Regions from separate parts of the Homo sapiens genome. Here regions 2 and 3 are each linked to region 1. Evidence: fine-mapped expression QTL. A gene starts in region 1. Each other region holds a variant in brackets. All regions are shown on one strand. Distances are between the middles of the regions.

Region 1 (2,764 bases):
AAAGGAGTCACATGCCTCTCAACCAACAAAGGACAACTGACCCTGTCTCAATATCCTCCATTCCAATCTAGTTTGTCAGGAGTCAAAGAACTGTACCCAGAGACACACAACTGTAATTGCCCTAAACAATTCAGCCAGCAACTGAAATCATTACATCAAGATGCTATAGCCAACAGAATATAAAAAGGAGCAATTTAGAAAGATGATTAGAAAATGAGGGGAATAAACATAAAGAAGACTGGCAAGCTGAATGCTTTTCCATTCCAAAGTCTAAGATAGAGAACAATATAGATGTAGACCAAGCTAACTGTGATTAGAGCAGATTTTGGCCCATTAAGGGATCAGCTATCAGCCACCTGTATTGGGCCATTGGGGCAAAAGAACAAAAAAATAAACCCAGAAGTTTACTTTTGAGGAACAGGGAATCGAGGTGGGGAGTGAAGAAAAGCCCTGGATGAAGGTTCCTGCATGGAGGACTTGCAGGACTATTGTCCTTTCCAGAAAATGCTGTATCTTTATCTCTTAAATACGTGGAGGGCACTCTTCATGCCCGAACTACCCAGTCCCTTAGTCCCCAAGGAAGCTCTTGTGTGACCTCCTCCTGCCCCACCTCCACCACTGCTTTCCCGTTGTCAGAATTCCCCACCTCCTCCAAAAAGCCAGAGTCCCCGTGCACTGTACCAAGGCTGGGTCTGAGAATGATAACCCTGCCTTCTCCTCTAGGTCAGGCTCAAGGACACGACCCATGCCTTTTATTTCTGGGTCCTCATTACACAGCCGAGCCGGGCACACAGGCGCGTTCAAATAAATGTGGAAGGGAGGACCGGGCGTAGTGGCTCATGCTTGTAATCCTGGCACTTACAGAGGCCAAGGCGGGAGGATCCCTTGAGCCCAGGGGTTCCAGACCAGCCTAGGCAATATAGGGAGGCCTATCTCTATTTAAAAAAAGAAAAAAAAAAATGTGGACGGGAGGAAGAAGAGAGGGGAAAGAGAAATGCTCGCGTAACTAACCATAGGCACCCCACGTCGCCAACCAGATCAAAACTCAAGCTTACATCTACTCAATAAAACAAAGGACCAGGGCCTGAATTTCAATAAGGTTGGTTACGGGACTGGGAAGGCGGCTTGGAAATACCTAGTCATCTCCAATTCTTTTACGGAGGAAGAAAATGATCCCCTAAAGTGTGAGTCCGTGACCGAGTAGGGTCTGGGACACTAATCCGAGACCAGTTTGAACCCGAGCAGAAGGGCGCAGACACCCCTACGAACCACATCCCGGGGCGGATTCTCCAGTTCGGTCGGGTGGGAGGGGGCGGTCCCCGGCACCTACAGGGCCGGGAGAGTGATCCCAGAGGCCTCCCCGCCCAGTACCCGCCGGCAAAAAGCCAGCGGCACCCCCACGCCGCCCGCCGCCTACCGCCCGCCGCCAGGGCCAGGATCCGGACCCAGTCAGGACGCTCACCTTGCTCTCGGGGACGGGAAAACGACCTCTCGGAGAGTACAGTTCTGGCGCGGCTTCGGCGGGCTGGAGCCCAGAGTCTAATTCAAACTGCCCGCAGCCGCCACCGGTGCCCAATTCGCCCGCTTCTGGTCTCAACCAAACTTACCTCCACGCCTATTGGTCACTCTAAGTAGCTGCGGACCAATCCGCGCCTGCGCACTCAGACTGCCGCGTCTGATTGGCCCTTTCGGATGGATTTTAAAAACAAGCCCTCTACTGGAGGTGCCTGCGCCGGAGTTTACTGTTCTTTTTTGTTGTTGCGGGGAGACGGAGACCACGTGCTTTTGCTAATGCTAGACGCGGTTTTGGACCGCTATTTCCGCAAAAGTCAGGGAATGCGCCCGCTGATTAGGAAGGCGTGGTCTATCGCCTACAGCCAGGGGAACTGTGCTGCCTGGTGAAACCTCTTTTAAACTGCACGTACCAATCTACTTAATTAAACGTAAATTTAGGACATAGATACTAGGTGCTGTGTTTGTCATGCATTCTTTATCCGGTGTCGTTCTTAACAATTCTTTGAGGAAAGTATTATCCTCATTTTATTAAAAAGTTAACAGGCTCATAGAAGCTAAGTACAGTAATTTGAAATTGAATCTACGCAATGCAGGATGTCGCTCTTAAATGCTGTCCTTTATGGTTCATATTTCTAAGACGTGATTCTGAACACTTATTTTCCGGGATTAAGGCGTGGGGGGAGGACACTGCATCAGAATTTAAAATTCAGAAGAATCCTCAAAACGGGGTGTAATGCTTTTCGTGAAGCCCACTAGTTTTCTATGTATGTTATATACTCGTTTTATTTCCCTATTAAACTATAAATAAGCTTCTAAAGGCAGAAGCAAAACAATTAATTGTTAAAGTAATAGATCTCTAATGCTGTTGTCTGCCTCAATAGGTACCAAACTTTCCAGCCCCCTGACTTTACCTTTCATTAGACTGTTCCTGCAGTACCCAATTCAAGTGTCACTTTTTTTATAAAACCTCCCTAATCCCACCCACTCCTTAGAGATAATTATTTCCTAGACCTTTCCTGGAACTTGCAAACTTCATGTTTAGGATTTTCGCCGTGTCTTGTCTTGTATTTATGTCTACGTCTGACTCCCCCATCAGACTCAAAAATTCCTTTACAGTAAAATCTGTTTTAATTCATTTTTGCATCCCTAGTAACTTTGCACATAGTAATTTAAAATCCAGATCATCTTGGGAGATAAAACTGCTATTTGGGGAAAGGCCTTGTTCTTACTATCTTCTACCTTCGAATCC
Region 2 (2,764 bases), 27 kb before region 1:
ACAAATATTGGGATGCATATGTTCTTTAGGCTATAAATTTCACATGCAGAAATCTGACCTATAGAAACATCAGCACACATACACAAAGATACCTGCCCCGTGATATTACAAACAGTGCCACAGGGAACAAGAAAATGTTGATAACCTAAGTATCCATCAGTAGAGGCAGCAGATTCAAGTGTAAGAGAAAAAGAAGAATAGAAGTGACATGGAGGTTTTGGTCCCAGCAATGCGGGGAATGGAAGTGCAAGTTAGCAGGGTAAGGAAGACTAAGGGAGGAACAGTTTTGAAAAAGAAAAATACCTAGAGTTCAATTCTTAGCATGTTACTATGAAGTGCCTTTAGACATGTGAGTGGACTGTCAAGCACACATCCACACACCTGAAGTCTAGAATAGACATCCAGGCTGGGTAGAGTCATCATCACATAGATGATATGTAAAGCCACAAAACTGGATGAGACCACTTTGGGAGTGAGTCTTAAATAAGTAAAGTGATTATAATTTTCAGTGCTTTAACTACTTGGGGGCATAAATTACTTGGGACAGCTCCCACCTGGTCATGGAACCAAGAACCAACAGATTATGAGAGAGCTCCACAGACTTTCGGATCTGAAATCCTAACTCACCCCCACTGTTTCTCTAGATGAGGAAACCTAGAGCCAGAATGGTTCTGTACATTCTCCACTTTGATAGGGAAAGTGAAGGTGGAGCGCTTTTTCTTTGAAAGTATCATATGTCAGTTATGGTAGAGAAGTAACAAGTACAAGGAACAAGAGGGGATGATTAAGGAGAGAGAGAGAGACACGGCCCCTACTTTATCCAGTTCAGCCTGCAGGACGTTGTGCATATTCTTGGCTTGCTGTAACTCCTGGGTGAGTCTGGCCTTCATCTGGATGCACTCCTGGTCCAGTGTTTGGAAAGAACGCTGTTGACGGGAGAGCTCCTGAAAAACAAAGGGCAGGTGCATCAGCCTGATGATGGTTCGCTAGGGAGACTCCAGGGTGAGGCATGAGCATCCTAACAGGCGACTGCACAGAGAGCACAGGAGACAGCAGGGAGCTGAGCCAACTGTCCACTTAACGATGAACATAGTCAGCCTTGGTGCTCCATGCTGCCCTCAGGCATCAAATCCAGGTCTCTGAGGGAAAGGGGAAGGACTCTTATCAGTTGACCACATGGAAAGTAGCCTGTTTCCACCTCATCTTCAGTCTTAAATTAATTACCTCTACTTTGAAGGATCAGGGGCAAGAGAGAAGAACTGAGCTACAACAGTCAAAGCTCAACTAAGAAACCAAACATACTCAAAAACGGTGTTTAAAACACAAAAAACTGTATACCACTTTAAATGGGCTTAAATGTAGAAGGACAGGAAATATATGCTACCCATTAACTTTAATAACCACAGAAAGATATCAGCTAACATTTCCAGGCATTCTTATTTAAAATCTATAGACTCTTAATCCGTATGGTACTTTTTCAGGCTAAATCACCTGAAAGAACCAAATTGGCAGATACTTATGGAAGGGCACCTTCCACCCTCACTCTTCTGCCAACCACTTTCCCCACCACATCAACTACCCTCCTAATTTATTTACCAACCCACAGGTTTAAAAACAACTGGAGTTGGCCAGGCATGGTGGCTCATGCCTGTAATCCCAGCACTTTGGGAGGCCAAGGTGGGTGAATCACCTGAGGTCAGGAGTTCGAGACCAGCCTAGCCAACATGGC[A/G]AAACCCCATCTCTACTAAAAATACAAAAATTAGCCAGGTGTGGTGGTGCATGCCTGTAATCCCAGCTCCTCGGGAGGCTGAGGCAGGAGAATTGCTGGAACCTGGGAGGTGGAGGTTGCAGGGAGCCAAGATTGTGCCATTGCACTCCAGCCTGGGTAACACTGCGAGACTCTGTCTCAAAAAAAAAAATACTGGAGTTATAAAGGAAATAGAGTGAAAGAAAAAAAAATTTTAAAAGCCTACTGGAAAATGTAATACAATTTCCTCCACAGCAGAGAAAATGTCCAAAAGAAGAAAAGTGATCCTTTCCTACTGAATATCAAATCTCAAACAAATCAGAAAACATGGATGAATTCTGAATACTAATTCCCTTCTCTAATCAAAAACTGAAAGATTTAAAAAAAGCGCAAAAGTGAAGATGTGAAAGAAAATAAGATGACCTTTAGCTCACAAAGCATTTCTCCTCTAAGAGAATTTCCCAAATTGTGATAACAACTCCCCTTTCCAAGTGATCAAACTATGAAAAGCCCATAAAAAGCCTTTCAGACAAACACCTCATGAATCCATTTACCTTACCTCTTGAAACTCCTTTTCTTTTTCCTTAATTTTCTGTTCCAGAGAACATCTGGCACTTTCTGCATTTTGTCGCTGACAACTCAAATCTTCCGTCAATTTTTTCAGTTTTTGTTCCAATGCAGTATACTAATAATGAATAAAAATGTTCAAGACAAAATAAATATTACTCACATAAATGAACAAATATTTTGTGTTTTAGAAAAACTGCTATAATTGTTTTAGCACACAATTTATGTTTAGGAACTATTAGCAAGGATGTAAAGCATTAGCCCACTTAAATAAATACTTCCTAATTTGTGCCATGAAAAAAAAGATCGGCATGTCTAACGATTCATCTAACATTTTGTTGCATGGAAATGAGAGGTTAAAATGCAATGGTGTTAGCCTATGTAATTTAAAAGCTGTAAAATCATCAGAGGGTGCCCATTACCCTCATATGATAGTCTGTTTCAAGCATA
Region 3 (2,764 bases), 37 kb before region 1:
GTCATGATTTCTTGCTTTAAACCACCAGCCTCGCTCTTAGAATTGTTTTGGTTATCTGTCATCTCAGATCTCAGAGCTTGCTGCACTGTCTCCAACTCTAGCATCAGATTCTGATTTCTTTCTTCAGCAAATGCTAATTTTGTTAAGAATTCTTGGTGTTCCTTTGCAAATGCTTCCTTTAGCTGTTCCAACTCATTTTTCCTATTTTCACAAAGACTAGTGCATTCATTTAGCAAGCATTCTAATTTAGAATTCTTTTCCTGTGCTGCTTTGTATTTTTGACTAAGATCCTCATATGCATTTCCGGTTTCTTCACATCTTTGTAGTAAAATAAGTTTTTCTTGCTTGTACTGATCAGATAACTCTGAAATGCTTTTCTCCCTTTCATCTATATAGTTTGCAAAACTCTCACTTTTCTGGATTAAGTTCATCTTCTCTTGATTTAAGGATGCATTAATTTCCTTAAGAGTCCCATTCTCTTGGGTCAGCTCTTCAATTTCCCTTTTATTTAGAGAAATGATGGAACTCATTTCTTTCTTCTCCAAGCTTAGGGTTTCGGATAAAAGTTGTAGCTCCTTTAGAGAGTCTTCAAGTAGATGGTTGCTCTTTTTTAATTCTTGAATCTCTGCCTGCTCAGTTTCTACCTTATCATTTAAAAGTTGCAGCTCTTTTTCCTTGTTCTCAAGGGCACTTAAGGTTTCAGCAACAACATTCTGGTGAGCAGAAGTGTCTTCCTGTAACTTACTAATGCGCTGACTTGTTTCAGCCACAAAACTTTGATGCATCTGTTCTGCTTTCATGAGATTTTCTTCTATTTCTCCTTTGATTTGCACCAACTCTTCACACTGCTTTTGCAGGTCTGAGTTCATCTGTTTTTGAGACTCTAATGAAAATTCAAGTGAATCAACTCTATTTTGTAGGATGGCAGAATTTTTCGGACTTTGGTCTGCTTCTAAACGACATTCACTCCTCTCTGAAGGCATGCTTCCTTGTTCTCCAATTATATTTGCAAAGGAATGATGCATGGCAGGCTGCTGATCAAAAGCCAAAAGACTTCTCTGATGATCTTCATTTGTCACCAGAGAAGCATCTTTGGATTTTAGCAGATCCCTGAGGCTCTCATATTCGGCATGCAAGTCTTGGTAACACCGGTCTTTGTCCATTATTTCATTTGACAGTAACTGAAGCTTGTGTTCTAGATCTTCAACTTGCCCAGTAAGCTGAGAAGTCTTCAAACACATATTTTCTATTTCCTTCTGATGTTTCTGATCTGAGAACTCAGCTTTCTGCTGTAGCTCCATATAAGCTAGTTTCTGGGTCTCTACCTCCACTGACTTACTGTCTAACACGTTGTGAAGGTTTCTGATCTCGACACTTAGGTTTTCTC[T/G]GTCCATCTCCAGCGTTCTTACTCTCTCGTTGTATTCATGACTTTTTATTTGCTGTGTCTTCAGACAAGTTTCCAAGTGATTAATTTTACTCTGCAAGTTTTCCTTTTCTGATTCCATCTGAGTTAAAAGTTTTTCGTTTTCACTTTTCCAACAAGAAAACAGAGTTTTCTCTTCTTTCAATTCTTCATATTCTTTCTTTTTTAACTCTAAAGCACTCAGCAAGGCTTTGGACTCTTTCTCTGTCTTGCTTAACTTATCATTAAGTTGTTCAATGTGATGTTCTCTTTTCTTCAAAAGGTCTTGAGAACAATCTCGCTGCTTTTCCAGATCAGCCACAGCAAGCTTCAGTTTTTCTAAAGTCAAGGAGTTTTCTTGCTGATTTATTTTTTCTTGAAGATCTCTTAACATGGTTTCCTGAGAGGTATTCTTCGCTATTTAAAAATAAATAAAAGTCGTCAATGTTTGTAATAAATGTTTATTCTACAGAAACGCTAACCCCTCCCCCCGCCCCCTGGCAAAATCCAAACAAACTAACAACTACTCAAGCCCTGGAAAAACTGGCATTATTGCCTGGGTACCTCCTAGAAAGTGGATCACTTGGTAATTATCTTATATAAAAATGAGAAAAATGGTTATCTTAAGGAGAGTAACACATTTGTTCATCTTCTTTCTAGCAGCTTAAGAACATGTTATTGAATAAAATACCAAGGGATGATTTTCCTAAGCACTGTTTCTTTTCTTTGTATGTGTTTACATATGTGTATATTTTTACCATCTTTTCAAATATTTATTCCAAGAGAGAAAACTGGGACAAGAACAGCACTGAAATGGGAACATCCCACTTTATTGTAGAGTAATTCTGATGTCTCAGAAAAGTAAATAAGTACTCCACCATTTTAGCTAAAACATCCACAGGATTAGACTTAAGTAGAAAAGAGTAAATGATGCCATATATCAGTAATTCTCAAGGCCTATATGTGAATATTCCTGAGGAACATTATCACCCCCATCCCAGCCCCTCATAGTAAGGGTGGCAGTGTCTATGAATGTCACAGTCATTTGGAAGCTTCTTCAAACTCCGTTACCCCCTGTCTTCTGCCTAATGACTCATCTATACATACTGGCCCCTCCTGGTTGGGAATAACCACGATGTTTTCATTAAACAGTGATAAGAAGGCTTCATGTTGCTCAAGTATGTTGGGGGAGATTGAAAGTTGAGAACCTCCACAGTAGATGATAAAGGTAACATGTATTACAATCTCAGACATCATATCAAGTGGAAAGCAGTACGAACTTCTAAGCTGTCAATCTCAATCTACCTACTTATAGTTAAGGGCTTATGTAGACAGCACCACAAGGGCTTCATCCCACTTTGC

The links. PIP is the estimated chance that this variant, and not a neighbour inherited with it, causes the effect.
Region 2: its variant is the best candidate, but not a certain one, in a credible set for the expression of CENPF in T cells (TOPMed, PIP 0.85).
Region 3: its variant is the best candidate, but not a certain one, in a credible set for the expression of CENPF in lung (TOPMed, PIP 0.74).

What each region holds. Positions count from the first base shown.
Region 1 is chr1:214,602,020-214,604,783 of GRCh38, reverse strand. CENPF (centromere protein F) reads right to left here and starts at 1,589. Exons shown (of 20, transcript NM_016343.4): 1 at 1,463-1,589. RefSeq lists a silencer at 1,486-1,695.
Region 2 is chr1:214,628,714-214,631,477 of GRCh38, reverse strand. It overlaps CENPF (centromere protein F), which reads right to left. Exons shown (of 20, transcript NM_016343.4): 8 at 2,307-2,432; 9 at 816-944. Among named protein-coding and RNA genes, the nearest start is that of CENPF, 27 kb to the right of the region's middle. The variant A/G (reference allele first, on the strand shown) is at 1,730.
Region 3 is chr1:214,638,976-214,641,739 of GRCh38, reverse strand. CENPF (centromere protein F) reads right to left here. Exons shown (of 20, transcript NM_016343.4): 12 at 1-1,819. Among named protein-coding and RNA genes, the nearest start is that of CENPF, 37 kb to the right of the region's middle. The variant T/G (reference allele first, on the strand shown) is at 1,388.